Linked DNA regions of Homo sapiens. The protein of the gene in region 2 purifies or fractionates together with the protein of the main gene of each other region. This does not show direct contact. Each region holds a gene or a part of one and is shown on either strand. Other genes may lie near its edges. The genes, in order: SLBP, GSTM3, ECT2L and PLS1.

The links.
Region 1: the proteins of GSTM3 (region 2) and SLBP purify together in Homo sapiens (affinity purification with mass spectrometry; 3 studies listed by BioGRID and IntAct, with this or other methods). This does not show direct contact.
Region 3: the proteins of GSTM3 (region 2) and ECT2L purify together in Homo sapiens (affinity purification with mass spectrometry; 3 studies listed by BioGRID and IntAct, with this or other methods). This does not show direct contact.
Region 4: the proteins of GSTM3 (region 2) and PLS1 purify together in Homo sapiens (affinity purification with mass spectrometry; 3 studies listed by BioGRID and IntAct, with this or other methods). This does not show direct contact.

The regions. Positions count from the first base shown.
Region 1 is NC_000004.12:1,709,305-1,717,042, forward strand, and holds the start of SLBP (histone RNA hairpin-binding protein), read right to left. Parts: upstream 3,016-7,738; 5' UTR 2,885-3,015; coding exon 2,826-2,884; intron 2,687-2,825; coding exon 2,570-2,686; intron 1-2,569. UniProt on the Homo sapiens protein: RNA-binding protein involved in the histone pre-mRNA processing.
Region 2 is NC_000001.11:109,738,025-109,745,914, reverse strand, and holds the start of GSTM3 (glutathione S-transferase Mu 3), read left to right. Parts: upstream 1-4,876; 5' UTR 4,877-4,962; intron 4,963-5,403; 5' UTR 5,404-5,627; coding exon 5,628-5,675; intron 5,676-6,006; coding exon 6,007-6,082; intron 6,083-6,421; coding exon 6,422-6,486; intron 6,487-7,548; coding exon 7,549-7,630; intron 7,631-7,723; coding exon 7,724-7,824; intron 7,825-7,890. UniProt on the Homo sapiens protein: Conjugation of reduced glutathione to a wide number of exogenous and endogenous hydrophobic electrophiles. May govern uptake and detoxification of both endogenous compounds and xenobiotics at the testis and brain blood barriers.
Region 3 is NC_000006.12:138,792,219-138,799,105, forward strand, and holds the start of ECT2L (epithelial cell-transforming sequence 2 oncogene-like), read left to right. Parts: upstream 1-3,868; 5' UTR 3,869-3,974; intron 3,975-6,887. Other genes in the region: CCDC28A (coiled-coil domain-containing protein 28A), read left to right, coding at 531-585.
Region 4 is NC_000003.12:142,591,557-142,599,395, reverse strand, and holds the start of PLS1 (plastin-1), read right to left. Parts: upstream 3,004-7,839; 5' UTR 2,887-3,003; exon of another isoform or gene 2,048-2,886; intron 1-2,047. UniProt on the Homo sapiens protein: Actin-bundling protein. In the inner ear, it is required for stereocilia formation. Mediates liquid packing of actin filaments that is necessary for stereocilia to grow to their proper dimensions.

The DNA.
Region 1 (7,738 bases), on a different chromosome or scaffold from region 2:
ATGGCACAGTAAGTTGTGAAAAGCCACAAGAGGCCTCTGAGGAGGAAAGCCTCCTAATTGCCATCATGTTCCCATGCTCAGAGCGAGACCTGCTCTCTTATCTGTAAACAGTGTTCAAGAAGAAAGACATTCCTTTAAAGCACTGGAATGTGGACAGATTTGCAGGCTCCTAGTTAAGCCCGCTCCCACTAGCTACTCTCCAATAAGTTAGATATGCTGTTTGAGCACAAAGGAGATTCATTGAAACCGCTATAATTACGCCTATGACGCCTGCCTCCCTTTCACTGTTTCACCCTGAACATCTACTTCTTTTTTTTTTTTTTTTGAGACGGAGTCTCGCTCTATTGCCCCAGCTGGAGTGTAGTGGGGCGATCTCGGCTCATCGCAAGCTCCGCCTCCCGGGTTCACACCATTCTCCTGCCTCAGCCTCCTGAGTAGCTGGGACTACAGGCGCCCGCTACCACGCCCGGCTAATTTTTTGTATTTTTAGTAGAGACGGGTTTTCACCGTGTTAGCCAGGATGGTCTCCATCTCCTGACCTCGTGATCCACCCGCCTTTTGCCAAGGCGCTGGGATTACAGGCATGAGCCACCGCGCCCGGCCTACTTCTTAAAGTGATTGTACTCAATAAATAGTGTGGAGACCGCAACTCCGGGCCTTTTGCAGCCTCCATTTTCCAACTGGTCCCCTGGCTCCCACCTTTATGAGCTCTTAACCTGTCTCTTCTCATTCCGGGTAAGTGTCGAGGCTGGTCCCCAACAATGGGGTTTCTCCATGTTAGTCAGGCTGGTGTCGAACTCCTGACCTCAGGTGATGGGCCCGCCTTGGCCTCCCAAAGTGCTGGGATTACAGGCAGGAGCCACTGCGCCCAGCCCCCTAGACCCAAGTCTCTAAATATCATCTCTATGTCCTGGTAACTCACTGTGCCTGAAGATGCCTCCCATGTAGACTCCTACACTCCGTTACCTTTCTTGACATCTCCTTTGCTTCTCTAAGCAGCTTCTCAAGCCTCACAACTTCCCATGCCTAGCTGCTCCAGCCCATCTTCTCTATCTTAGCAAATGGCCCCAATCAACAGCGTTCAGACCTAAAGGCTTGAGTCATTCTTGATGCCTCTTTCCTGTGTAAACCAAAAAGTGTCTGAGACAGGTCTCAATTGCTTTAGGAATTTAGCTAATGTTAAGGACATACCTAGAAGAACACGAAATTACAGAAAGAGTCTGTGGTCTGTGCCTTTCTCCAGAGATGACTGTCAGGGCTTCAATATTTAAAAGAGAAAAGTAGGTTGAAGGAGAAAGATCTACATGTTCCAAGAGAAAAGGAGCAGGTAGGGGAATAGTCAATTATGTATTCCTAGTGTGCTCAGTAAGTCGCCACTTAAAGTGAACAGAGTTCACCCGTGGAGATATTTAATCTTGTATCTGTAGGTATCTGCTTAGAAAAAAAAAAAGAAACACAAAGGTGGCCGGGCGCGGTGGCTCACACCTGTAATCCCAGCACTTTGGGTGGCCAAGGTGGGTGGATCACTTGAGGTCAGGAGTTCGACACCAGTCTGGTCAACATGGTGAAACCCTGTCTCTACTACAAATACAAAAAGTTAGCCGGGCGCGGTGGCATGCGCCTGTAATCCTAGCTGCTGGGGAGGCTGAGGCAGGAGAATCACTTGAACCCGGGAGGGGGAGGCTGCAGTGAGCCAAGATCGCGTCACCGCACTCCAGCCTGTGAGACAGAGTGAGACCCTGTCTTTAAAAAAAAAAAAAAAAAAAAAAAAGTAACGCAAAGGTAGTTTCTTGCATGATTCCGCGCTCAGCATAATTTTTTCCTTTTGGCACAGTGAAGTTGGGTCCGATTTTTTTTTTTCCTTTCACGCCTCCCATCCCCAACCCATCAGCAAGTCTCACAGGTCCTGCCTTCAGAAGCCTATCCCGAACCACGCATTTCCCTCCACCTTCACTGCTCCATCTCGGCCAAGTCACCACGCCTTTCAGGGAACTCAGGAGCAACAAGCCCCCAGTGCGGGACGAGCCACCCCAAAGCCCCTCGAGAAGTTTTCTCTAACCACAGCCCCGAAAAGCCCCGCCACTACGACCACTGGCACCCCTGCTTATTTCCTCCAGACCCTCCTCGGCCGTCCCACCCCATCAAGCCCTCCTTTCGCTCGCATCTCCACCCTCCCTGCACACTGCCTAACCCAGAAAATGGCCAAGCAGGTAAGCCCTGTCAACTCACTTCTCCTCGGGACTCGGGTGTCCCTGACTTCCACGTGTTCACGAGAAGCTCGTCAGAGACCCTGACCTCTCCCGGGAGCACAACACAGACTCGAACTGGCTAACTCGGGCTGACGCCGGTTCAGCTGACTCCCATCCTGGCAAGAGGCTTCCGGAGTGTTCCAGCGCCTCCCAGGCCTGCTGCGGCCGCCCCAGTCCACGGGCCGCGCGGAGACCAAGATAAAAGGACGCAGGGTGCCGACCTGACCGATCCCGGCACCGCGAGAGCGCGACGAGGTCCCTGGAGCCCGCGGCCTCGTCAAGGGCCCCACCGCGCCCCGACCCCCGGGTCCCGCGCCCACCTCTCGGGTCTGCGCTCGGCGCCGCGGTGCTCTGCCTCCTCGGCGTCTTCGGGCCTCCAGCGCCTGCCGTCGGCTCTGCGCTTCCGTCCCAGGCTCCATCGCGCGGGGGACGGCGGGCTGCGGGGAGGGACGCGGTCGGCTGGGCACGGGAGGTTCGGGACCGCCTTACAACCTCCGCCCTCCCACACCCCGGCCCCGCACAACCCCCGCCCCACGGGGCACGCGCTCCCTCGCCCGCCGCGCAGCCCGGCCTCACCTGGCGTCACCGTCGCAGCGGCTCTGATGCCTCGGCGGGCTTCGCGGGCGGCAGGCCATGGCAGCACGGGCCGGGCGCGCAGCGCAGGGCCGAGGCTGAGGCGGCGGCGGCGCGGGCAGAGAGCGCAGAGTAGAGCAGGGCAGGGCCTGAGGCAGAAACCCGCGTCCCCGCGCCGGCGCTCACGAGCTCTGCGCGCCCCGCCCCCAACCGCCTTTATGTGGGCGCCGGGCCCCGCCCCTCGGCCTCCCGCGCGCGCCGGGTCGGGCGAGACCATCGGGCCACGCCGCAGGGGTCCACTCAGCTGTGCGCGCCTCGCGAGCCGACTGGGGCTAGGGCGAGGCCTCGGGACCGCGGGCAGCCGCGAAGCCCGACTGCCCGGCCCTCGGCTCGGGAGCCAGATGGACGCCGTGGGCTGAGGAGAGGCCTGAGGAAAAGGTTGCCCCCACCCGCGGGATTGAGGCGGCCGGGCCGCCGCGGGCCTCTGCGACGCTGATAGGTCGCGCCTTGGCGGGCGGGGGCAGCTTTGGCGGGAGATTCGGCCGCGCGCGACGCGGCGCAGGTCGTGGGGGAAGGGTAAGCGGCACGTTTCTCGGCCTGGGTCGTGGCGCATCTCCCATTGGTTCCGGCCTGGGTGGAGCGCGGCTCTGCTTGGTTCCTGCCCAGGTGGGGGCGTGTCTCCTCCCTGGCGGGAACCCGGAACCCGGAACCCGGAAGGCGCGGCCTGTGGCGGGTACTGACTGCTTCCCACGGTCCCGTGGCCGCTGCAGGCCCCGTACGCGCCGTCTATTGTTTTGAGCCGCTTAAAGTTTTGGAGTAACCTTTTAGGTCGCAACAGTTGACAACTACACTGAGTCTTTCCGGTCCCACTGCCCTGGCCGTTGACCGCACACCGGCCACCGACTGAGCCGCTAGTTTCGGTTGCCGCTGCCTCCCTGCCCGTCCATGACGTCCTCCACTGTGTCGCCGGTGCATGACGCTCCCACCCTCTGCCTGGAGTTGACTGGGTTTGTATCCTGAAGAATCCCTGGCTCAGCAGGTAGGTTCCACCTGGAGGCGAGGTCCTGTAGATCCGCACCATCCCGTCCCGCTTCCCCGCCGTCACAGTTGCAGCTGACGGCCCCGCGGATCCAGCCAACTAGAACCCCAACGGGTGCACTACACCTGAGAACAGGTTCCCACAGCTTCCTGTTGGGGACAACGTGAGGGATGCAGGGGAGAGTGGAACCAGCCAAAAGAGTGGGCAGTGGGGTCAGGTCCAGGAGGCTGAGCCCCAGGGATGCTTGGGATCCCTCTAAGGCCTTACACCTCTGGGAGGGCCGGACTTTTGCACCTGCTGCCCTCAGGACTGTGCCTTGGTGCGTCCACCGCCCCCTTTTGAACTCAAAAAAGTCATCCTCAGACTAGGACGGACACATCCTGTCCCCTTCCTCCCCAGGCCCTGGGCATCCCATAACCCTCAACACTGTAAACTAAAAATAAAATCCTGGCAGGGCGCGGTGGCTCATGCCTGTAATTCCAACACTTTGGGAGGCCGAGGCGGGAGGATCATCTGAGGTTGGGAGTTCGAGACTAGCCTGACCAACATGGAGAAACCCTGTCTCTACTAAAAATACAAAATTAGCCTGGCATGGTGACGCATGCTTGTAATCCCAGCTACTCGGGTGGCTGAGGCAGGAGAATTGTTTGAACCCGGGAGGCAGTGGGCTAAGATTGCACCACTGTACTCCAACCTGGGCAACAAGAGCAGAACTCTGTCTCAAAAAAAATTAAAATCCTAAGCCCCCAACAACTGAATGGACCCCCTTGCGGTCAAGGGGACACCAGTGGCAATAAGATACCAAATTATGAATAGGACCTAAGGTCATGCCAGGCAAGGGTTAAGTCACACACCCTACATTTAAACTATATTCCTACTGCCACACTGCTTTTCTTTTCCTCTTAGTAGCTCAATAAGCACTGGCCTTGAGCTAAGCAATATTGGAACAGTGCAGTGGCCGAGATGATGGCTCATGCCTGTGATCCCAACACTTTGGGAGGCTGAAGCCTCCAAAAGGATTGCTTCAGGTCCAGAGTTTAAGACCAGCCTGGGTAACAGCGAGACCCTATCTTTACAAAAAACTTAAACAAAAAGGCTAGGCACTGTGGCTCACACCTGTAATCCCAGCATTTTGGGAGGCTGAGGTGGGAGGATCGCTTGAGCTCAGGAATTCGAGACCAGCCTGGGCAACATAGCAAGACTTCATCTTTACTAAAAATCAAAAAAATTAGCCGGCCATGGTGGTGTGTGCCTGTGATCCCAGCTACTCGGAAGCTGAAGTGGGAGGATTCCTTGAACCTGGGAGGTCAAGGCTACAGTGAGCCCAGATGGCGCCACTGCACTCCAGCCTGGGCGACAGAGTAAGACCCTGTCTCAAAACAATAAAAACCAATTTGCAGTTCCACCGGATGCTGACTGATCCCCCAGCCCCTATTCCACCAGCCATAACTACAGTTTCATTGGACAAGAGACTGATTTCAGTAACTTGGTCCAGATAAGAGACCACAGTGATGGACCACTTCTGGCCTGTGTAGAACCTCATTATAATACATTTTAAATGTTAAGTCTCCACCCCAAAGTGAATGTGGATTGTATGTTTGTTCAGGATGCATGCGTCAGGACTGCCTTCATGAATATTCATAGCTCCTCCTGTCACCTGCTGAATATGCATGTTTAGCCAACCCATTCAGCATAAACCTCCTGCCCCAACCCCTCCTCCTCCTCCTCTGAAGTGCCCATCTCTGGTCTTGGCCAGAGGCTGTGCTTTCCAGTCTGAGGGATGGCCATCTTGCAGGCTGTTAACTATTTTTATTTTGAGACAGTCTCACTCTGTCGCCCAGGCTGGAGTGTAGTGACGCGATCTCGGCTCACTGCAATCTCTGCTATCCAGGTTCAAGCGATTCTCGTCAGGCTGTAACTTTTTAGAAGAAATAAACTCTTCTCTAAGTTAACAGTACAGAGCCAAAGAGTCCCAAGTACCTGTGAGTCACAGGGCCTGGCACAGTCAGGGCCCATAACAGCCCCTCAGTAGATGCTCACTGGATCTCTGTTGTTGGTTAAAGCAGCGCCTGGCTGTGTATGCAAAAGAATGCCAGTGAAAGTACCAGGCTGGAAAGAATCTGAAGACACTCGTAGCGCAGGAAACTAGAGCCCACTGTCATATCTTTCAATAGGATTACGTGTACTGTTTCCCCAAGAACCATCCTGTGGGTCAAGAAGCAGAATGGGGAAAAGGCAGCAAGCACTCACTGTCCGGTTGCTGGGGTGCTCACCTGAGGGCCCAGTGCTGTGGGGAACCCCAGGCTGCTGTCTTGGCTGCCCTAGGTGCTCGGCTGGCAATTCCTGGGCCACCCTGACCCACAGTGAGGTCAGTAGAGACAGCCTGGTGTCCTCACAGGACGCAGCTGCAAACATAAGTGAACCGGAAAGGCTGCTCACTCCTTGGCTACCCATGTGTCCCCACATCAGTTCCTGCATCTGGAAGCAGCCGCAGTGGCGACCACACAGTGACTTCCCCCAGGACGTGTCTCTGCCCCTCCCACCCTGCTCCTGCAGAGGGCCCTGGGTCAGGGGTTCTCAAGACCCCAGAGTCCCTAACCAGAAATCAGAGGGGAAGGTTCCTACTGTACCCGCCTCCCAACCAATGGGTTTTTCCTCCTTATTCTGAACAAAGCACGCCACGCACGCAATTCCACCTCTAAGGTGGCTTCTCCAATACCCACAGGCCATTCTCCAACTATGACAAAAGTTTGGTTTTAATATCGGGCAACACAAAACACAGTACATCACTTCAGACTAAATTTTATTAAATATGGTGTCATTTGGCTACAATCGGTTTGTCTTTATAAAACTAAGTAACTTATTTTGTAGTAAAAACAACCCCAACCCACTGCCCCTCTTTGGCAGCCCTTGAAACTCAGTTCAAAGCTAGGCCTGGCTCCCGGCCATGGCCCCTGCTGCCTTCACCTGCTGAGCGCTCTAGGAAGCCTCCCAAATCCCAAGTGTCAGGCCCCCGGAGTCCATCACCTCTGCCTCAAACAGCCAAGCCCAGGGGCTTTGGGGCCGCAGGTATGAAGGCCCCTCCAGTAGCCACACCTGTGTCAGGGCTGTGCCCTGGGGCCTGGCCAACATCCCCCCTCCCCTTGAACCATCAGGAACTGGGCAAGACGCCCACCAGAGGCTTGACCACAGGGGGCGTGCATCCCCTTCTGAGCCTGGGAGACCCTAGGGGAGTGGGTAGCCTGGGCTGGACCCCTGGTGGGCTTGTGTTCTGGATGTCGCTATGGCACTTTGGTCCTCAACTCAAACCCCCACCCCTACCCAGGAGTCTGAGACCTCGGCCTTCCCTGGACTTGTTGGGCAGAAAAAGGCACCAAGGACAGGATGAGAAACCCGGAGGGGCAGCCCCACAAATGAGGGCGCTCTGACCTGTCCTCCCATTGCCACCCCACCCAGGAACAGCCCCTCAACTGGTCACAGCCACCAGGAAGCCCCAGGACTGCTCCCACACCACAGCAGTGCCCTCTTCTCCATCCCACCCTCAGGACCTACCCAGGGTCCTCCAGGCAGCCAGGGGCCAGCTCCAGGACAGGGCAGGAGAATGCGGTCCAGGTCTGGCACGTAACTGAGGGTGGGTATGCTCCAGAGAAGTAAGGCAAATGGCCCAGATGACGACCACCTGGGGTAGACCCAGGGTCTCCAGGGAATGGCTCGGGGGCAGACGCTGTGTCTGTGTGTGCAGGATCTGCCCCCACCAGCAGGAAAGGGGCAGGAGGGAGGCAAAGAGGAGGTGCCCAGGACTTGTACCCTGGCTGCCAAGCAGGGTGGGGTGTTTTCATGAGGATTGCTTTTAACCAAAAGTCCTCAGCCTTCTGCA
Region 2 (7,890 bases):
ATGCCCACAAGAGAAAGCAGGAAAGATCCAAAATTGACACCCTAACATCACAATTAAAAGAACTAGAAAAGCAAGAGCAAACACATTCAAAAGCTAGCAGAAGGCAAGAAATAACTAAAATCAGAGCAGAACTGAAGGAAATAGAGACACAAAAAACCCTTCAAAAAATTAATGAATCCAGGAGCTGGTTTTTTTTAAAAGATCAACAAAATTGATAGACCGCTAGCAAGACTAATAAAGAAGAAAAGAGAGAAGAATCAAATAGACGCAATAAAAAATGATAAAGGGGATATCACCACTGATCCCACAGAAATACAAACTACCATCAGAGAATACTACAAACACCTCTACGCAAATAAACTAGAAAATCTAGAAGAAATGGATAAATTCCTCGACACATACACCCTCCCAAGACTAAACCAGGAAGAAGTTGAATCTCTGAATAGACCAATGACAGGCTCTGAAATTGTGGCAACGATCAATAGCTTACCAGTCAAAAAAAGTCCAGGACCAGATGCATTCACAGCCGAATTCTACCAGAGGTACAAGGAGGAGCTGGCACCATTCCTTCTGAAACTATTCCAATCAATAGAAAAAGAGGGAATCCTCCCTAACTCATTTTATGAGGCCAGCATCATCCTGATACCAAAGCCGGGCAGAGACACAACCAAAAAAGAGAATTTTAGACCAATATCCTTGATGAACATTGATGCAAAAATCCTCAATAAAATACTGGCAAACAGAATCCAGCAGCACATCAAAAAGCTTATCCACCATGATCAAGTGGGCTTCATCCCTGGGATGCAAGGTTGGTTCAACATTCGCAAATCAATAAATGTAACCCAGCATATAAACAGAACCAAAGACAAAAACCAAATGATTATCTCAATAGATGCAGAAACAGCCTCTAACAAAATTCAACAACACTTCATGCTAAAAACTCTCAATAAATTAGGTATTCATGGGACGTATCTCAAAATAATAAGAGCTATCTATGACAAACCCACAGCCAATATCATACTGAATGGGCAAAAACTGGAAGCATTCCCTTTGAAAACTGGCACAAGACAGGGATGCCCTCTCTCACCGCTCCTATTCAACATAGTGTTGGAAGTTCTGGCCAGGGCAATTAGGCAGGAGAAGGAAATGAAGGGTATTCAATTAGGAAAAGAGGAAGTCAAATTGTCCCTGTTTGCAGATGACATGATTGTATATCTAGAAAACCCCATTGTCTCAGCCCAAAATCTCCTTAAGCTGATAAGCAACTTCAGCAAAGTCTCAGGATACAACATCAATGTACAAAAATCACAAGCATTCTTATACACCAATAACAGACAAACAGAGAGCCAAATCATGAGTGAACTCCCATTCACAATTGCTTCAAAGAGAATAAAATACCTAGGAATCCAACTTACAAGGGATGTGAAGGACCTCTTCAAGGAGAACTACAAACCACTGCTCAAGGAAATAAAAGAGGATACAAACAAATGGAAGAACATTCCATGCTCATGGGTAGGAAGAATCAATATCATGAAAATGGCCATACTGCCCAAGGTAATTTACAGATTCAATGCCATCCCCATCAAGCTACCAATGACTTTCTTCACAGAATTGGAAAAAACTACTTTAAAGTTCATATGGAACCAAAAAAGAGCCCGCATTGCCAAGTCAATCCTAAGCCAAAAGAACAACGCCAGAGGCATCATGCTACCTGACTTCAAACTATACTACAAGGCTACAGTAACCAAAGCAGCATGGTACTGGTACCAAAACAGAGATATAGATCAATGGAACAGAACAGAGCCCTCAGAAATAATGCCACATATGTACAACCATCTGATCTTTGACAAACCTGACAAAAACAAGCAATGGGGAAAGGATTCCCTATTTAATAAATGGTACTGGGAAAACTGGCTAGCCATATGTAGAAAGCTGAAACTGGATCCCTTCCTTACACCTTATACAAAAATTAATTCAAGATGGATTAAAGACTTACATGTTAGACCTAAAACCATAAAAACCCTAGAAGAAAACCTAGGCAATACCATTCTGGACATAGGCATGGGCAAAGACTTCATGTCTAAAACACCAAAAGCAATGGCAACAAAAGCCAAAATTGACAAATGGGATCTAATTAAACTAAAGAGCTTCTCCACAGCAAAAGAAACTACCATCAGAGTGAACACGCAACCTACAAAATGGGAGAAAATTTTCACAACCTACTCATCTGACAAAGGGCTAATATCCAGAATCTACAATGAACTCAAACAAATTTACAAGAAAAAAACAAACAACCCCATCAAAAAGTGGGCAAAGGATATGAACAGACACTTCTCAAAAGAAGACATTTATGCAGCCAAAAAACACATGAAAAAATGCTCACCATCACTGGCCATCAGAGAAATGCAAATCAAAACCACAATGAGTTACCATCTCACACCAGTTAGAATGGCAATCATTAAAAAGTCAGGAAACGAGGTGCTGGAGAGGATGTGGAGAAATAGGAACACTTTTACACTTTTGGTGGGACTGTAAACTAGTTCAACATTGTGGAAGTCAGTGTGGCGATTCCTCAGGGATCTAGAACTAGAAATACCATTTGACCCAGCCATCCCATTACTGGGTATATACCCAAAGGATTATAAATCATGCTGCTATAAAGACACATGCACACGTATGTTTATTGCGGCACTATTCACAATAGCAAAGACTTGGAACCAACCCAAATGTCCAACAACGATAGACTGGATTAAGAAAACATGGCACATATACACCATGGAATACTATCCAGCCATAAAAAATGATGAGTTCATGTCCTTTGTAGGGACATGGATGAAACTGGAAACCATCATTCTCAGCAAACTATCGCAAGGACAAAAAACCAAACACCGCATGTTCTCACTCATAGGTGGGAACTGAACAATGAGAACACATGGACACAGGAAGGGGAACATCACACTCCAGGGACTGTTGTGGGGTGGGGGGAGGGGGGAGGGATAGCATTAGGAGATATACCTAGTGTTAAATGAGGAGTTAATGGGTGCAGCACACCAACATGGCACATGTATACATATGTAACAAACCTGCACATTGTGCACATATACCCTGAAACTTAAAGTGTAATAATAATAAAATTTAAAAAAAAGAAAGTAATGCAAAAACTGCAAAAAAAAAAAAAGAAAAAGAAAAGAAAATGGGCATAACACCTACTTCCTAAAGTTGTTGTGAAGCTTAAATTGGAATAAATTAGCTAACATACGTAAACACTTAGATATTGCCTGGCATATGATAGGTGCTCAATAAATGTTAATCTTATACCTCAGGTGAATTTGTGACTGGCCTTTTGCTTTCTTGGGAGGAGAGACACAGGCATTATAAATTTCACCTGTCCATGTGGTTTGTACTCTTCCTTTCTTCTGTTTAGCAAAATGCCCTTTTAAAAAGTCCCAACCTTGCTTCAGTTGAACTGATGGGCAAATGTGATTTCCCACACCTGAGCTAGGGGATCTAGGCTCTCAGACTGCCCTGAGAGCTGTGCTGCAGAGGCCTGGCCAGAACCCTCAGAGCAGCTCCGGACTCCTTCCTCTGTCACTCCTCCACATTCAACTAGAATCCTATGTCTCCCGAGTTGACCCTGTTGCAAATCTGTGCCCCTTTTCATTTGCATGGGCCCTGCCGAAATTCAGAAGCTTAGTTCTTCCCATGACTATAGGGGCCTCGGGCAGGTCTCTTGCTCTGTCAAGGTCAAAACCCCTACTTTCCTAAATTCAACCATTGATTCTCCATCTTCATCTTACTTGATCAGCCACACTTGACATAGTTGATCACTTCTCCCTTTAAACATCTTCACATGGCTTCTGGGACCTTTTGTTTTCCTCCTACCTCCCTGGCCACTCCTTTTCAGACTCCTTTGCTGGTTTGCTCTCATTTTTCCCTAACCTTTACATGTTGATATGCCAGAGCACCTCAAACCCTTAGACCTCATCTCTGCTACTCGTGCTCCCATGGTGATCTCATCTAGTCTCTGGTTTCAAACACAGAGTGATCACTCCTGTACTTGCTGTTTCCCTTTTCCTGGAGTTCTCTCTGCCTCCTGCAGGTAGGAAGTGATTCGAGATAAGAGAGGGAGAGAACTCTTCTGGCCAGGATAGAGGGTGATTCTGAGAAGGCTTCAAGGAAGAAGTGAGCATTTGAGCACGGCTACTTGAGGAAGGCTAGGCCATGGACATTAGGGTGCAGGCAGGAGCAGAGCAAACATGCTTGTAAAAGGAACAGCAATTATTCTGTTTTATATTTATATCAGCCCATGGTGGCCCCCACAGCAGAGTGGCTTGATCTCTCACCTCCTTCAGGTCTTTGTTTAAAGATTAACTTCTCCATGAGGCCTTCTATGAACATAACCTTTAAAAACATAAATCCCCTTCCTACTGGGACTCCCCCAGTTCCCACCCTGAGACCCCCTATCTCTCTTCTCGATTTTATTTCTCTCCATAGGATGTGTATCACCACCTGACTTACTAGCTATTTACTATATATTAGTTTATTTCTTCCCCATTAGAATGTAAACTTCCTGAGGGCAGGGATTTTGTCTGTTGAGTTCAGTTCTGTATCCCCAGCACCTAAAACAGTGCCTGTCCATAACAGGCATGTTAAACATTGTTGGACAGATGAATGAGTGAATGAAAAATGGTAGTACCTTTCCTCCTCCAGTCCATCCTACACAAAGAGGCAAGATTAATTTCCCTAAATGCGTGAGCATTAGGAAGTGGGAGGGATTGGAGGAGGAAATTATAATAAGGAATCCATAAATTACTTAAGCCCATAAAACAAAGGTAGGAAACATTCAAGATAAGAGACCTCTTCTGGCCAGGATAGAGGTTGGTTCTGAGAAGGCTTCAAGGAATAGGCAGACATTTCAGCAAGGCTGCTGAGGAAGGATAGGCTGTGGAAATTAGGATGCAGGTAGGAGGATCACAGAGCAAACACTCCAAGGTGGGAAATGCAAGTGTGTGTAGAAGGAACAGCAAGTATTGTTGGGTTGGGCTGGCTTATGAAGTTGTGACGGGCTGAGGGAGAGACAGGACTGGAAAAGCACGTTGGGGTCAGGTTGCAGAGGTCCTTGACTGACAGAGAGGGGAGCTTGGTCTGTGGGGAATCTTCTGCTCTGTGTGGTCAGAGGCTGGTCTGACTCTCCGGCCTTGCCCCAGTCTTCCTATCCTTCATCCAGCCCCGGCTGGCTCGGTAAAAACGGCGCGAATCTCGCTCTCCCTGGGTAACTAGGGTCCCCACTGCCTGGCTAGTGGTGCTTTTCGCGTCTTCACTGGCACCATTAATGAATGAAGTCTGGCTCCCACCCGCGGGGAAGGGAGGAGCCTCAACCTCGGGTCCTTTGCTCTCCTGCAGCACTCCTGCCCGGGTCCCGCCTCGGGGTCGCCAGGCCCTGAACCCCAACGCCGGCATTAGTCGCGCCTGCGCACGGCCCTGTGGAGCCGCGGAGGCAAGGGACGGAGAACGGGGCGGAGGCGGAGTCAGGGCGCCCGCGCGTGGGCCCCGCCCCCTTATGTCGGGTATAAAGCCCCTCCCGCTCACAGTTTCCCTAGTCCTCGAAGGCTCGGAAGCCCGTCACCATGTCGTGCGAGTCGTCTATGGTTCTCGGGTACTGGGATATTCGTGGGGTGAGTGCCGTCTCAACGGTAGAGCCGCTCGGTCAAAGAGACTGACGCGGAGAGGGCGGGTCTCTGGGTCCGCGATCTCCAGCAGGAGCAGCTCTACGCGGGAGCCTTTTCGAGCTGCCGAGCCACGGATGTCGACCCCTGCCCAGCCTCTGGGATCGCGGGCCCTGTGGGGAGGGGCGGAGGAGACCACGCCGGAGCCGGGCCTAGGGGCCGCTTAACCACCGCCCCGGCAGGACGCAGGGACTCGGCAGCCCCGGGCCGGGGAACGTTAGCGGGCGGGGGTTGGGAATGGGTGGGAGCTGCGCAGTCGCTGAACCGCTGTCTTCCCCAGCTGGCGCACGCCATCCGCCTGCTCCTGGAGTTCACGGATACCTCTTATGAGGAGAAACGGTACACGTGCGGGGAAGGTAATGCCGCTCCGCGTGCCCGTGCAGCCAAGCTGGCCCTCCACCTGCCCTGGTCTTCTTACGCCCAGAGGGTGGTGGCGTCGCGCCAAGGCCGGGTGGGACGTTTGCCCCAATCTGGGTGAATAGAGACACATCCTTTATCTGGAACTGGGGGTTCTCTTTTTAACATAGCCCAAACCCGTCTTAATGCTTAACCAAATAGGGCTCAGAGGCTCAATGGTTATGCTTTTGGGGCCTGGGAATTTGAGGTATTGGGACCAAGTCATTTCTTTAGATCTTTTGCTCTTGTCAGGTGGGGTATTAAGGAGGTTGGGTCCCACTTAATTCCGTCTCTTACAGCTCCTGACTATGATCGAAGCCAATGGCTGGATGTGAAATTCAAGCTAGACCTGGACTTTCCTAATGTAAGTGGCTTTAGTAGAGGTGGCGGGCAGAAGGGAAAGCCTTCAAGTATATCCATCCTTGCCTCTCTCCTGCCTGGTACAGAAGGATGCAAAATAGGGGATCTTAACCCGGATAGAATAAATAGAATTCAGGGGTCCTTGAACTGGATGGATATGTATTTTCATTCCCATTAACCACTAGCAAAAGTTATTTCCTTTTATTGTGAAGAGAGACAATAAGTGACATTGGTTATTAGCCATGTCTGTCACTTTGTCACTAGTAGAAATCAGGTATTTTCTTTTTTGTGTGTTTCTTGTTCTTTTGTTTTGAGACAGTGTCTCACTCTGTCGCTCAGGCTGGAGTGCAGTGGCGCAATCACAGCTCACTGCAGCCTCAACCTCCCAGGCTCAAGCAGTCCTCCCACCTCAGCCTCCCAAGGAGCTGGGACTACAGGCACACACCACTATGCCCAGCTAATTTTTGTATTTTTGTAAGAGACGGGGTTTTGCCATGTTACCCAGGCTGATCCTGAACTTCTGGGCTCAAACAGTCCTCCCACCTCGGCCTTCCAAAGTGTTGGGATTACAGGCATGAGCCACTGTGCCCAGCCTGAAATCAGGTAGTTTCATATTCTATAACATGCGTTGCAGATATTTTAAGTGATATTTATATACATGTAAGTAAATATATACATATAATGTTATTTACTTTGAGATTATGTTAGTCATTACATCTGCTTGCTATTTAATGCACTAATAGGCACATGTTACTCTTATTTGAATTTTTAAAAATATTTTTTGATTGTGTAAATTATCTATTTTGCTTCATGCATTTAACAACTTTATTCTGAGAAAAGGTCCATGGCATGCACATACACTCACACATACACACACCAATTTAAGAACCCCTGTCTAGAATCTTGTGGACCCAGTTGCTACCTTCTACTTATTTTCTTTTTTCTCCTAACACAGCATCTTCTCACTCTTGTTCACTGCCCTGCAAGTGTTCTTTTCCCCTGGAGAGAGAGGTAGGGAATCAAGAGAGAGGCAGGTTGTTCATTTGTCCTGTCCTTTTCCTTTCAGCTGCCCTACCTCCTGGATGGGAAGAACAAGATCACCCAGAGCAATGCCATCTTGCGCTACATCGCTCGCAAGCACAACATGTGTGAGTGGGGTAGGGCTGGTGAGGGACCCCAGGCTGGTAGTTTGTCTGAGAGTGGATGATGCCAAGGGTGATTTGTTGTCATTTGGCCTACAGGTGGTGAGACTGAAGAAGAAAAGATTCGAGTGGACATCATAGAGAACCAAGTAATGGATTTCCGCACACAACTGATAAGGCTCTGTTACAGCTCTGACCACGTGAGTTTCCTTAGCACACATCTGCTGAATGGAGTATCAGAAAAAGGGGTATTTAGGAACCCAAGG
Region 3 (6,887 bases), on a different chromosome or scaffold from region 2:
GATTATTGACACATTAAAAATAACTCTGGGCCAGGTGTGGTGGCTCGCACCTGTAATCCCAGCACTTTGGGAGGCCGAGGCAGGAAGGTTGCTTGAGGCCAGGAGTTCAAGACCAGCCTGGGCAACATAGCCAGACTCCTCCCCCATCTCTAACAAAGAATAGAAAAATTAGCCAGGTATGTTGGCACATGCCTTTGGGAGGCTGAGGTGGGAGGATTGCTTGAGCCCAGGAGTTCAAGGCTACAGTGAAGTATGATCGTATTACTGCATTCCAGCCAGGGAAACAAAGTGAGTCCTTATCTCTAAAATTTAAAAAAAAAAAAGTCTTCAAATTCTAGACAAGAGTATAATTTACTACATTTAAAAGTTGTCTTACCACATCTGAGTGTCTCAGTAGCAACACAAGAGCTTTTCCTTTGAACATATCTCTTTTTTAAATACCGCTTTCTCTTTGCTCCTGAATGTAATTTTCAGAAATGTAAAAGAAGTACCCCTTATAGAATGAAAATCTTCTTAACTGATTAATTCAGACAAAAACTCCATTTGGCAGATGCACAAGATGTTCCAAATACTTCTGCTAGCTAAAATGAAATGTAGTTTGCTTTCTTGTGATTTGAAGAGAAGCAGCAGTCTTTACTTTTCCAGCCAAATCCAGTAGCAGAATCATCTTCCACAACAAGGAATTAAAGTAATTAAAGTGCAAGTTCAATGATCGTTTTCACTTACTGCTTTTAGTAAATGTGACTCGCTGTAATTCACCATAACTGGAGGCCTAGGCCTTGTTGAAGGCTTCATCAGGAAATGTGACGCAGAGATTGTGCTGCTGTGCTTCATATTGTTGCCTTATGGGATTATACTTGAAATGCATTGTGCTGATGTTCTTGACAGGGCGGAGGGATTTCTCTTTCCTGAGCTCACCAAACTTATTCCAGTGTTGATCGCAAGCTGTTGATGCACAGGCGTCTTGTGGCAAGCCCAGCTTCAGTTTATGTTAGACAATCAGTACACATGCTGGTGTGTTTTCCAATGGCCAGTGATAAGAAATTAAATAAGTATTTGTGAGATTTGCTATTTTTTAATAAAGTAATTGTTTTAAATTAATCTCTGTTGTCTGTTTTGAAGAAACCCATATAGTCTTCAATCTGGGAAATACAAGGGTTCAATCCTTAAAAGTAAACTGTGTTTATAAAATTTGAGGTTCTTGAACTCCTTGCAAATTCTGTACCTTGTGTACATTTAAATACTGGTGTGATGAAAGAATGTGAGCTTTAAAGTTACTTACACCTTAATTTGAATCGCCGTTCTGCCCCCTTAACTTTGTGTTCATGCACGTTTACTCAGGTTGGATTTTTTTCTTTTTTCTTTTTTTTTTTTTTAAATCTAGAAAATGAGGTCAGTAACCAAGTTGGTAGTTGTTGTATGGGGAGTAAGTGAAAAAGCGCGTATAGGATGCTTAGCACAAGCCGGGCACGGTAGCTCACGCCTATAATCCCAGCACTTTGGGAGGCTGAGGCAGGTGGATCACTTGAGGTCAGGGGTTCAATACCCAGACCGGCCAACATGGTGAAACCCCATCTCCACTAAAAACACATACACACAAATTAGCCGGACGTGGTGGCGGGCTCCTGTAATCCCAACTATCAGGGAGGCTGAGACACAGGAATTGCTTGAACTCAGGAGGCAGAGAGGTTGCAGTGAGCCGAAATTGTGCCACTGCACTCTAGCCTAGGCGACAGAGCAAGACTCTGTCTCAAAAAAAAAAAAAAAAAGAGAGATGCCTAGCACAATAGCTGATACCAGTAATGCTCAGTAAACATTAATTTCATCACCCTTTAAAAACAGCTTTATTGAAACAATAATTTATGTCATAAAATGTACCCCTTTAAAGTGTACAATTCAGTGATTGTTAGTAGATTCATAGAGTTATATACCCATCACCGTGATCTAATTCTAGAACATTTTCATCACACTAAAAAGAATCCCATTAACAGTCACTCCTTGTCCCCTAATCCCCTCAGCCTTTGGCAGCCACTAACCTCCTTTCCAGCTCTCTGGATTTTCTATTCTAGACATTTTATATAAATGGAATCATACAATACGTGGCCTTTTGTGACTGGTTTCGTTTACTTAGCATGATGTTTTCAAGGATTGAAGCTTCATCCATGTTATTGCATGTACTTCATTTCTTGTTTTGGCTGATCATATGCCATGGTATGGATAGAACACATTTTGCTTATTTATAACTCAGTTACCTTTGTGTTGCAGAAGATGCTCATGCTTCTGTCTCCTTGTTTCCAGGCCACAGAAATAAGCACCTAATTGGGGGAGGGGAGGAGAGGGACTTACTGAATATTTTTCAAATCTTGATTTTAATAATTTTTGGCTTTCTGAATTCAAAGTATTTTGATCAGTAAATTGGTCTTTTTAATACCCCTTTTAAAAATTACAGCATCATGGAGGAAACTTCATTTGGGTTGTGAGAATAGGGATTTAAGGGGGAAAAAGTCGTACTCTAGGGTCTGACAGGGCGAAAGGACACTTTGTCATGTGACATGTTTTTCTTGGATTGGTCCTGAGATAGAGTAAAGCAAAAAGCTGGTTCCTGCGGGTTGTGACAGAGCAGTGGATTGACCTTGTTTATTCACTTGGTTCATTCGCCCTTTGTGTCACAGGGCCCTAAATGGGTCCCAGGTAGCGAAATATTAGCTTATCTAATTTGTATCCTTTCACACTCCTTAAACACATGTTCAAGGAAACAGGAAAAAATGCAGTGCCTGGATTAGAATAAAATTTAAGGCCTGGTTTGGTGACAGGCACCAGTACTTTTAGCTACTCTGGAGGCTGAGGCGGGAGGATTGCTTGAGCCCAGGAGTTCTAGGCTATAGTGTACAATGATGATTTTACTGGCATACAGATGAAAAAGAAAAAGATATTTGAAATAAAAATAAAAATATAGTGCACAATGACCAGGCCTGTGAATAGCCACTGCACTCCAGCCTAGGCAGCATAGCAAGATCACATTTCTCATATGAAACTTTACTAGAATGAAACTTATGGTTTATTACATAGATGTTGCTTATTCGTTGTAGGAAAAATTGAATTACAGATGATTTTTAAAACTACCAGAGCAAACCATTTAACCTATTTGTGTACATACTCCCAGATTTCTTACACACGTTGCAAAAAAAATAGATCGTACCATTCTGCTGGTTTTCTAAGCTGCTTTTTGTAAGTAATGTACTGTGAGCATCTTTTCATGGCCATAACTATTACATACAAAAGAAAAAAACAGGCTTCACAATAAATAGTTAAAAGACATTTTGACCTGAAACTAATGAAGAAGGGTTTTTTGGTTTTGTTTTTGTACCTCCTGTATAATGCTGAAATTGGTAATTCTGCAGTAAATATTAACATTTTCTGAGGATCTGCTGAAGATGAATGTGACAAAAAATAAGAAACTCCACTTTCCTCATCACACAGCCTTAATTAACATCGCTGGCTTTGTTTGAGATCAAGCAAACGTTGGCTTCAGTGTCCAAGTCTCTTCTTGGGGTCCCACGGCCTTGGGTCTGGCACCTCTGCTGGGCACCTCGCAGGGCTTCCGAGACGTGCCGCGACCCACGGGACCCCACGGAAGCTTTCTCCCACCGCAAGCTCCCTGGAGGCAGGGAAAGGAGCCGGGACCCGAGCCTAGCTGGCCTCAAGAGAAGGGCGGTGGCTCGCACGGCGCGGGCGGCTTTGCTCACTGCAGCTGGGGAGATGCAGGTTGGCCGTCCGGGCGCGGCGGCGGGAGGGGCTGCGGGCCTGTGGGGCGGGGTGGTGGCTCCGTGTTGTTGGATCCCTATGGAGATGACCCTGTCCCTGCCCCACCCCTCTCCGGAGCTGCGGCCCGAGTTGGCGCACTCGATTTTCACTGCGCGGTTCCAAGAGGAGACAGCCGCCACTGTACCGGGCCTCATAGCCACTTCCTAGAGGTAAAGCCCGTGGCTTCTGAGCCGCTAGTCTTTTTCTTGGGGCCGCCCGGGGCACATCGCCTGGGCCGGCTTAGTTTCCCAGTGCAGTCGCCCAGGAAGACCCTAAGCAGCGCTGAGGGGCGCAGGGCCCTCCCTCCGCGACCCTGGAGTCCCTTAGCAGCTCTGGAATTAACCAAGATTCTGAAGAGGCTCTGGGGAGAAACAAAATCCACGCGTAGGGTAGGGTTTGCATCGGGCCATGCCAAGTAAACTCTTACCTCCTCCAGAGAACTGATTTGGGATCGAAGTAAAGTTCTTGAACACTTTGGAAAACGCTGATTTTCATAGGTTCACACCAACTGCCTTCTTCCTTCTGACAGTTCTCTCCCTCTTTCCTCCTATGGGGTCCAAAAATGTAGGGAGTAGGGTGGGGGCTGGGTTGGGGGAATGAGGGAGGAATACAAAAAATCTACTGTGAATATAGGTCTTGGTTATAAGGATAGCTCTAAGAGTTAATATGCTAAGATTTGATGAGCAGGACAAATAAAACAGTGGTACTTTAAAATATCGATTTAAAAATACCGATGCTGTGCTTATTAATAAACTTTGCATATGTATCAGAACACAATATCCTGACATCATTGGTGTTAAAGTTCACTGCAACCCATGCAATTGTATCCAAGCCTGTTAAAGTCTGTTCTGCAGGAACTGACATTTGTGCTCCACAGAAACCTCAAAAATCATGCTCTACAAACACTTATTTCAGTGGGAGGAAGAAGGGTTAAGGACTTGGAAGTTTTATAGCAACAGTTGCATCTTGTTTGTTACAGCTTTAGTTTTATAGCTTTAAACTTATAAATCAGTGAGCACATCCACCATTTGAAAATACCAGCACAAGTATGGTATTTTCTATCACCGCCTGTAAGATCAATAGCCCAGGTTTCCTCAAAACACGCCATTATTTTCATTATCCATTGCTTAGTGTGTACTTAATAAAAATTATATACTGGCATGTAGTTTTACATGCCCTAAATGTGGGACATTTAACTCAACTGGAATTGTCTTTCATTTCTGTTTTTTCACCAATCACACTTACTTTTCTTCTACTCCCGTTCTTTTGTGCGATCTTTAGAACCAGATACCTTTTTGGAGGCATATTTAAGGAAGTAAATTTTTGATAAATAAAGGAATCATTGCACAATTTGCATGTGTGAATTGCAGAAGTACGCGCATGTAGGTACATACCTCTGCCGAGGAGCAGTGTTTTAATTTCTAAGCCACTCTGTCTACTGTAGTGGAGAAGGACCAGACTAACTTGCATTTCTCCAGCTGTATAACAGATAACCTGTGGAAACACAGTTAATTGACATCATTGCTCTTCTGTGTGATCCCAGTGAGGATTTAGCTCTCTATATGGGCTGGCAATTGTTCAGCCATTTCATCTTTTAATCTGGCTTTGGTTGTTCTGAGAGGAAAAAAAAAACAAAAAACTTTTTTCTCTTTACTCTCACACACTCAGTACAGCCCTTCACCTCTTGTCACCAAAATGTATGGGAATTTCTTCCCACCGACAACCAATTCTCCAGTGGCCACCAACTCTACGTCCTATAATTTAACCCAGTTCTGACACTGTGTACCTGGAGTTAGTGTCAGATCCCATACGTTCAGGGCTCAGTCCCAAAAGACTGCCCCCCACTTCAAATGCCAATCACAAGTCCCAGGTTGTGACTATATGTTGTTTATGATTAACCAACCAGTTACAAATCTGGATTCCCACAAGCCCCTCCTCCGGTTTGATTAATTTGCTAGAGTGACTCACGGAATTCAAGGAAACACTTTACTTATGTTTGCCCATTTATTATAAAGGATATTACAAAGGACAGATGAATAGCCAGATAGAAGAGAGGCCCAGAGAAAGGTATGTGGGCAAGGGTGTGGAACTTCCATGCCTTCTCAGCCCCTCCACATGTTCAGCTATCCCAAAGATCCCTGAATCTTGTCCTTTGGGATTTTAATGGAGGATTCATTCATAGGCACAATTGATGACATCATTGGCCATTGGTGATCACTCAACTTGAGCCCTTCTCTCTTCCCCAGAGGTCAGAGGATGGAGCTGAAAGTTCCAGCTGCATAATCACATGGTTGGTTTCCCTGGTAACCAGCCCCCATCCTGAAGCTATCTAGGGGTCCACCAAGATTCACTTCATCTGAACAAAAGATGCTCCTATCACCCAGGAAATTCCAAGGGATTTCGGAGCTCTGTGTCAGGAACTGGGGTCAAAAACCAAATATTAGAACAAAAGATTCTCCTAGCATCCCTATCTACAAGAGTTTTAGGAGCTGTATGTCAGGAACCAGGGACAAAGATCAAATATATATATTTCTTATTATTCTACCATATCACAGGTTGTCACACAACAGGCCCCATCCTTCTTTTGACTAAGCATGGAAGTGCCAATGTCAATTTCCGAGTTCCTCATCAATATACCAGTTGTAAAGGATAGTCAGCCACGACATAGAAGTGTATTTCCAAATACATCCGTAGCAGTTGTTAAAGCAAACTAAATATGGCCTAAGATGGACTCTGTACTTTTATATTTGAATGCTTGTGGGTGAATTGCAACCTAATTTAATAGGTAGACAAGAATGAAAACCTAACTTAGGAGTATGTGCCTGTAATAATCGCTGAGTCTTGGCCAATCCCAGGAGCCGTACTTCAACCACTCATACACTGCTGAGTGTTCAAACTGTGTTCAAATAAGGCAAATGCTGAGCTGTAACCAATCCAGCTGTTTCTGTACCTAATTTCTGATTTCTGTACATCACTTCATTTTTTTGTGTATAAATTTGTTCTGACCACAAGCCACTCCGGGAGTCTCTCTGAATCTGCTGTGATTCTGGGAGCTGCCTGATTCACGAATCGTCCATTGCTCA
Region 4 (7,839 bases), on a different chromosome or scaffold from region 2:
ATTGCGCCACTGCACTCCAGCCTGGGCGACAGAGCGAGACTCCATCTCAAAAAAAAAAAAAAAAAAAAAAAAGAATATCTGAGTCCCTCCTCTATACAATTAGGGGATAGTCTGGATAAAGCGCTACCATATAGCTCTAAGATCCTAAATGCCCACCCTCCCCATGGCAAAATGCACTTTTTATTTATTTATTTATTTATTTATTTATTTATTTATTCATTCATTCATGTAATAACTATTGAGTGTCTGATACTGCAAAGCAATGTGCCAGGTATTGTGAAGGGTTAAAGGTCATCCTTCAGAGAGCTTATCATCTAGAACGGGAAATAAGACAATTACATCACTAACTAAGAAACAGAGACAATGTCACAATTCGAGGTACTTTTTTTTTTTTTCAGATGCAGTCTTGCACTGTCGCCCATGCTGGAGTGCAGTGGCACAATCTTGGCTCACTGCAAGCTCCGCCTCCCGGGTTCATGCGATTCTCCTGCCTCAGCCTCCCAAGTAGCTGGGACTACAGGCGCCCACCACCATGCCCCCCCAGCTAATTTTTTGTATTTTTAGTAGAGATGGGGTTTCACCGTGTTAGCCAGGATGGTCTCAATCTCCTGACCTTGTGATCCACCCACCTCGGCCTCCCAAAGTGCTGGGATTACAGGCGTGAGCCACCACACCCAGCCAATTGGAGGTACTTTTAAGATAAAAAGAACATTATAAACCCATTACTAACACCCCAACCCTGAAATTCATTTTCAACATGTCTTTCCTTCTCTGCATTTAGTCTTTCACCACATGCTTCTTCCTTTACATTTCTTAATTCTGTGCCCTCTTTTCTCCACTTTGAGTCACAGGCTTAATCCAGGGCCTGGACCAACTGACCCGTGTTTTTACGCCTGTCTCCTGTAATCCCCCTAACTAATCTGTGATCTGTTATCAAAATATGAGGAATCAGAAATGGACTTGGCTGCTGTCTTGATACAGCTCTAACATGGCCTTCCCCATATTATAGAACACACATGAAATCTCTTTACAAAACTATACATACTGCACTTCCTTCCCCCACTCCCTCCCACAAACAGGGGCTAAGAATATACTTTGTGCTTAGTGCTGGGTGGGATGTTTAAGTCATAGGCTTTAACCTCCAAGAGCTTACACAACCTGCCAACTTCCTGGTCGGGAAGTTGGGAGGTGCTAAAATACTCAGGATACTATATACAATGGGGATACTAACAGCACAAACAACAGTAGTAAGTGCTATAGGGTTCAGAAGAGGGAGAGCTACTTCATGCTAAGGCAATCAAGGAAGGCTTCCAAAAAGAGGTCACACCTGAGCTACACCTTGCAGCATGAGCAGGACTTCAATACGGAAAGAGGGAGGCAAACAGGCATTTTGGGCAAAGGGCCCAGGTGACTGAGGGAAGGAAGGAGGGCGTTTTCAGGACCAGCAAATTGTTAGGTGGGGCTTCAGTGAAAGGGCACTTTTTGAAAGGAATTTATGAGGTACTAGGAAGCTTAGTAAGAGAAACAACTAATTTTCTGCTTAAGCCAGACTTCATGGTATAAGTAGAAGAGAAAAAGGAAGTTTAATAATGGAGGTAAAGAAGAGTATCTGCAGGGAGTGGTAAAAAGACCCCAGAAAATGAGAAAACCTGGATCCCAGGCCTAGCTTTGCCAATGAGGGGCTTGGGTGGCCACAGCAAGTCATCTAACCTCGCTGGTCTCAGTTTTCTCATTTGTAAACTGAAGCAGCTGAACTGGCTGACCTCAAAGGTCTCTACAGCCAAAACTAGACCAGCTGTATATTATTTCTGCCATTAAAACATTTATCATGGGAGGAATGAAGGGGGGCAGGATACCTGTATTCCCTTTCCATATAGGTTTCTCTTCCTGAACTTAAAATTTCCTCTTCCTAAACTTACTACCTCTCTCTCTATATATATATATGCCTCCACATTACACATTAACACTTTACTATAGAATTTCATTACATAATTCAACTTAAAGGAAAGCTGATTACAAAGGTGGTGGGGGGTGTAAAAGTACTTGCTTCAAGTTCAGTGTGTGCCCCCTGTCCTGAAATTTTGCTTCTGGCTCACAGGTTCTTCAAGAAATTTATGCAGCACAGCTGAAGCCTCATACAAGTGTATCCAACACCGTGGCTGGAGGGAAAGATATCACGGTATAAGCCATAAAATGTGACATAGTAAGTAAGTAAAGGAGGAAAAGTGAGAATTCTGTTACTCATCTAAACGACCGCTTCCTTTTAATAGTACCAAATGAAGACCGAAATACAGTAATAATTGAAAAGTTAGGGAGAAATCTTAAATTTTTTTAAGTCTCCACTTGAAAATGCAGCTGAAACACGGAAAGTTTTTTGGCAGTGAAATTCGCTGAAAACTGACATTTTTATGCCGCATCCAGAGGTCCCTATGCTCCAGGAAAGGTACCAAAAACAGCACGGATGGGATTTCACTACAGCCCTATTGATCCTATGCACCAAAAGGCCAAAGGCAAATAAACCAGTCCCAGAATTAAAACAAAACAGGCTGGTTCAGAAAGCCTCACCGGCAGCCACCCAAAGTTGAAAGAAGAAAACTTAATGAAATACCTTATTTCATTGCATAGAATCACAATTCAGTTAACAGGCTTATTGTTTAAGCAGTGTAAATACGCGATTTAACACCTGCGGGCACTGCCTGCCGGGACTGGGCAGAAGCGTGCCCAGAGGACGGCGGGCGCCACACTGCACAGCCAGGAGACGAGACGCGAGCGAGGGGACCCGGAGATACTGCCCCCGAGCCGCCGCGCGCCCCCAAAGGAGTAACGCTTCGCTTTCCATCTGTCTGTCCAGCCTTCCTTTTGGGCCCTATCCCCACCCCCGCGTACCTGCCGCCACCGCTGTCCTGCCTTCGAGAGGGCAGCTCCCACTGGAGATCCAAGTACCTGCAGGTCCACTCTGCGGCTACCTCTCCGCGCCCGCGTAGCCGCTGCGCTCGCGCCACTGCGCATGCTCGGCCGGCACCCGGGCCCGCAAACTCTGAATCCACTTGCCGCGTTTTGCCTGCGGCTCCCAGGGGAGGGAAAGGGAAGCCCAGAACCTGGGTTTAGGCTAAGGGTGAAAGAGGAGTTGCAGGCGCTGGGAGCGTGGATGGGGAGAGGTGGACGGGCGCTGCGGCAACGTTATCTCTACCGCCCACAGTTACCCAAGTCTAAAGATGACCACCTACACCCTGGGAATGAGTTTAGCACAGCAGTTCTCAAACTTGAGCGTGGATCAGAATCACCTGGAGAGCTTTTTAAATCACAGATCCCAAACCCGGAAACTGAGTTTCCGATTCAGTTAGGTCTGGAGCGTAGCGCGACAGTTCCCATTTCTAACATGTTCTCAGCGAAAACTGGTGCTACTAGTCTGGGTACCACACTTTGGGACCTGCTGGTCAAAAGGAAAGGTATACGTTATTAAAGGAAGACTTGTTTCTCTCCCCTACTCTTTTTTTTTCCGTTTGTTTCACGGATTGCTTCCTTTTCCTTTAACAGCCACACCTGATTAAAATAAATATATAACTAAAGCCCACACTCAAACAAAAGTGGGATATTTTCTCTCGCATGTGAGTCAGGTAAATGGAATGCTGCCTCAAGAGTTCTCACATACTTTGCCTGAAGCATAATCCGTAGTTGTGGTCTGTCCAACTCAGTCCAGAGAACAGAACAAGGTTTTGCTGCCCCTTTAACTCAAAGTCCCACGTGCCCCTTCTGCGCCTAACACAATATCCAATACAGAATAGGCACCCAACCAACCCTGAGATGGTAACAATAGAAAAAATAAAGGGGGGAAGTTGAAATTATTTTAAGAACTCAAACAAATTGGACGAGCAATGAACTATGAAAGTAGGTGGGCCATGGAGAGGGAAGATAAGGAATTTTTCCCACCTGCCACCTAGAGAATCAGGTGAATTTAGTATTCTTATCTGATTTTTCCCACCTGCCACCTAGAGAATCTGGTAAATTTAGTATCCTTATCTGATACTTATTTATCTAGATATGCAAGGGGAGTTAAGTAAGTTCTCACAAAATAAAGCAAAATATTTCCTTAAAAGGTAAACATACATCTAACATATGACCCAGCCATTTCATTCCTAGATGTTATCCAAGAGAAATTAAAACATATGCTTACACAAAAACTTGAACAGGAATGCTCATAGCAGCTGTTTTTCACAAAAGCCCCAAACCAGAAGGAACCCAACTGTCCAACAACATGTAAATGAAAAAACAAATTGTGGTATATTTATACAATGCAATACTACTCAACAATAAAAAAGAAGAAATACTCTCACACAGGACTCAATATGGATAACTCTCAAAATCGGTATGCTGAGTTGAAGAAGCTAGAGACAAAACATATTGTATAATCCCACTTATATGAAGTACAAACTAACCTATAATGACAAAACCCAGATTAGTAATTGCCTGGAGCCAGGAGTGGAGGGAAGGATAAACTGCAAATGAGCAGAAAAAATATTTTTGGAGGGGGACGATGGAAATTTTCTCTGTTTTGATGGTAGTGACAAGTTCACAGGTGTATACAACTGTCATCGCTAAGTTGTACACTTTAAACATGAAAAATGTGTGTAAATTATTCACCAATAAGTTTGATAAGAGAACACTTTTTCATGAAATACTCTTATGATCTGTTTTTTTTTCGTGGTAATATTGACCAGGGCAGGTTCATGAGGAAACGTAGATTCTAAATATGGTATAACCTGATTTGGGAAAGGTAAAATAAAAAGTCATCCTCTGTAAATGAAGCTAAAAATAATGCATATAAAATGTCTGTAACAACCCTCTGTAAAAGCAGCCAACCCTAAGATATGATTTGTAAATATACCATTGATAAAACCGTTTCCCAAAATTGTTTCCAAGTGTAAAATAATAACTAGAGTATATCATTAGAAATGCACAACCAGGGCCCAGTGCAGTAGCTCACGCCTGTAATCCCAGCACGTTGGCAGGCCAAAGTGGGCAGATCACCTAAGGTCAGGAGTTCAAGACCAGCCTGAGCAACATGATGAAACCCCGTCTCTTCTAAAAATACAAAAATTAGCCGGTCGTGGTGGCAAGCGCCTGTAATCCCAGCTACTCAGGTGGTTGAGGCAGGAGAATCTCTTGAACCCAGGAGGCAGAGGTTGCAGTGAGCCAAGATCAAGCCACTACACTCTAACCTGGGCGACAGAGCGAGACTCTGTCTCAGAAAAAAAAAAAAAAGAAATGCACAACCAGCGTGTAATAATTATATAAAGAAAATTGTTACCTGCTTAACTGATTGTATCACTAGCAATGACAAATAAGGTATTCAAACTGTGTTTCCAGGAGCTCTGGGTTTCATGGAGAGAAAAATACGCAGGGCTCTGGATCAAGGACCCTAACCCAGACTGCTTACATATTGTAGTATCTTGTGAAATCTTATTTGATAAAAGGGTTTCACTGATAATTTTGTTTTTTTGAGACTGAGTCTCGCTCTGTTGCCCCGGCTGGAGTTCAGTGGCACGACCTCAGCTCACTGCAACCTCCACCTCCCAGGTTCAAGAGATGCTCCTACCTCAGCCTCCTGAGTAGCTGGGATTACAGGTGCACACCACCACACCTAGTTAATTTTTTTAATTTTAGTAGAGACAGAGTTTCTCCATGTTGGCCAGTCTGGTCTCGAACTCCTGACCTCAGGTGATCCACCCTCCTCGGCCTCTCACAGTGCTGAGATTATAGGTGTGAGCCACCGCACCTGGCCATCATTGATAATTAAAAGAGCAATCGTTTGAAAACAATTGAAGTAATAGTATCAGGTCGTAAGAATTCACAAAGAGATGGTATATTTGGTGGACCTGTTTTTTGGCTTGCAGAGCAATGAGAAAAAATACATACAAAGATTTTTAAACTAGTTAAAAATGTACACTGTAGTTATAGTAACCATATGTTCCAATTTTTGTAGAATAGTCTTCATTTAAATATTTGTTTATTACATAAATTATATCTAATCATGTATTCCAACTGTTGGTTGAAAAAAATAACATCTTTTAAGCTGGGGGTTGTTTTTCAAAATAATATAAAAAATCACGAACTAAAAATAAAACGAGGATAAAGCAGGGCATGGTGACACACACGTAATGCCAGCATTTTGGGAGGCCAAGGTGGAAAGGGCACTTGAGCTCAGGAGTTCAAGACCAGCCTAGACAACGTGGAAAAAACCCATCTCTAAAAAAAAAACAAAACCAAAATTAGCCAGGTGTGGTGGCATGTGCCTGTGGTTCCAGCTTCTCTGGAGTTTGAGATGGGAGGATCTCTTGAGTCCAGGAGTCTGAGGCTACAGTGAGCCATGTTCACTACACTGGACTCCAGCCTGGGCAACAGAGCAAGACCCTATCCGAAAAAAAAAAATTGAGCTGCTACTGGGTAGTCACCATTTTAAACACTTCACCGTATTTACTCATTGAATATCCATGCCAACCCTATGAAATTATCCTCAATTTACAGATGAGAAAACTGAAGTACAAAATGTTATTTTTCCCATGATAACACAACTAAAGACTAAATAATTACAACTACATTTTTAAAATATATTTTATATAAAGACAATCTTTGCTAATTTCACAGTTTCCAAGGATCCATCTGAATTATTAATTTATTTTTCCAGGCTCATTGATACTAAGAGGGCTACCAAAAAAGCAGAGCTCTAGTGATTACTGCCATCATCATCTTCATTATCATTGCTAATATTTATTCCATGTCTTCTATGTACTAGCTACTGTGCCAAGAAGTTCACATTGTTTATTTCATTTAATATTCATGAAGACAAAAGTGCAGATTCAATAATAATAGGTAACAAAGACAGCGAATGGCGGAACCAGGATTCCAACTCAAGAGTGAATGGCGGGCCGGGCGCGGTGGCTTATCCCAGCACTTTGGGAGGCCGAGACAGGTGGATCACTTGAGGTCAGGAGTTCAAGAACAGCCTGGCCAACATGGTGAAACCTCATCTCTACCAAAAAATACAAAAATTAGCTGGGTGTGGTGGCATGTGCCTGTAGTCCCAGCTACTTGAGAGACTGAGGCAGAAGAATTGCTTGATGCAGGGAGGCAGAGGTTGCAGTGAGCTGAGATCACGTCACTGCACTTCAGCCTGGGTGACGGAGTGAGACCTTGCCTCAAAAAAAAAAAAAAAAAAAAAGCTAATGGAAGAACCAGGATTCAACTCCAGTTTTCTACTATTTACAATACTGGTCCCTGTATTCTAAGGGAAAAATATTGGCATTCTGGATTATAACCGAGTCTCTGTGAATGTGGCTAATGTTAGTTCATTCCCCAGAGCCTGATGGTTTCTAACATGCTTATAACCACAACACCCCACTGCAACCCAGCCCTGATCAGCATCCCGAAATCAGCTACTATATAGGCACCAATTTTACAATCAATTTTAGAAAAGTAGGTGCATTCTGAATGATACCAGCAAGTGTGATGTGACCATATTTATTTCATTTGGCTGGTTTTTTTTTTCCAGAACAAAGAGAGTAGAGAAAAAAACATATGTGAGAAAGACTAAGATTCAATATTCAGTCTGTGGCCATACCACCCTGAACACTCTCGATCTCGTGTGATCTCGGAAGCCAAGCAGGGTCAGACCTGGTTAGTACTTGGATGGGAGATTCAGTATTCATTTCAACTCTGAATTTATGATAAATCATTTAGAAGAGAAAACAATAATATGAGAAATAAGTCCAAAAAAACAGGGCAAAACTTCTCTCTCTCTCATGCATACACACACACACACACACACACACACACACACAC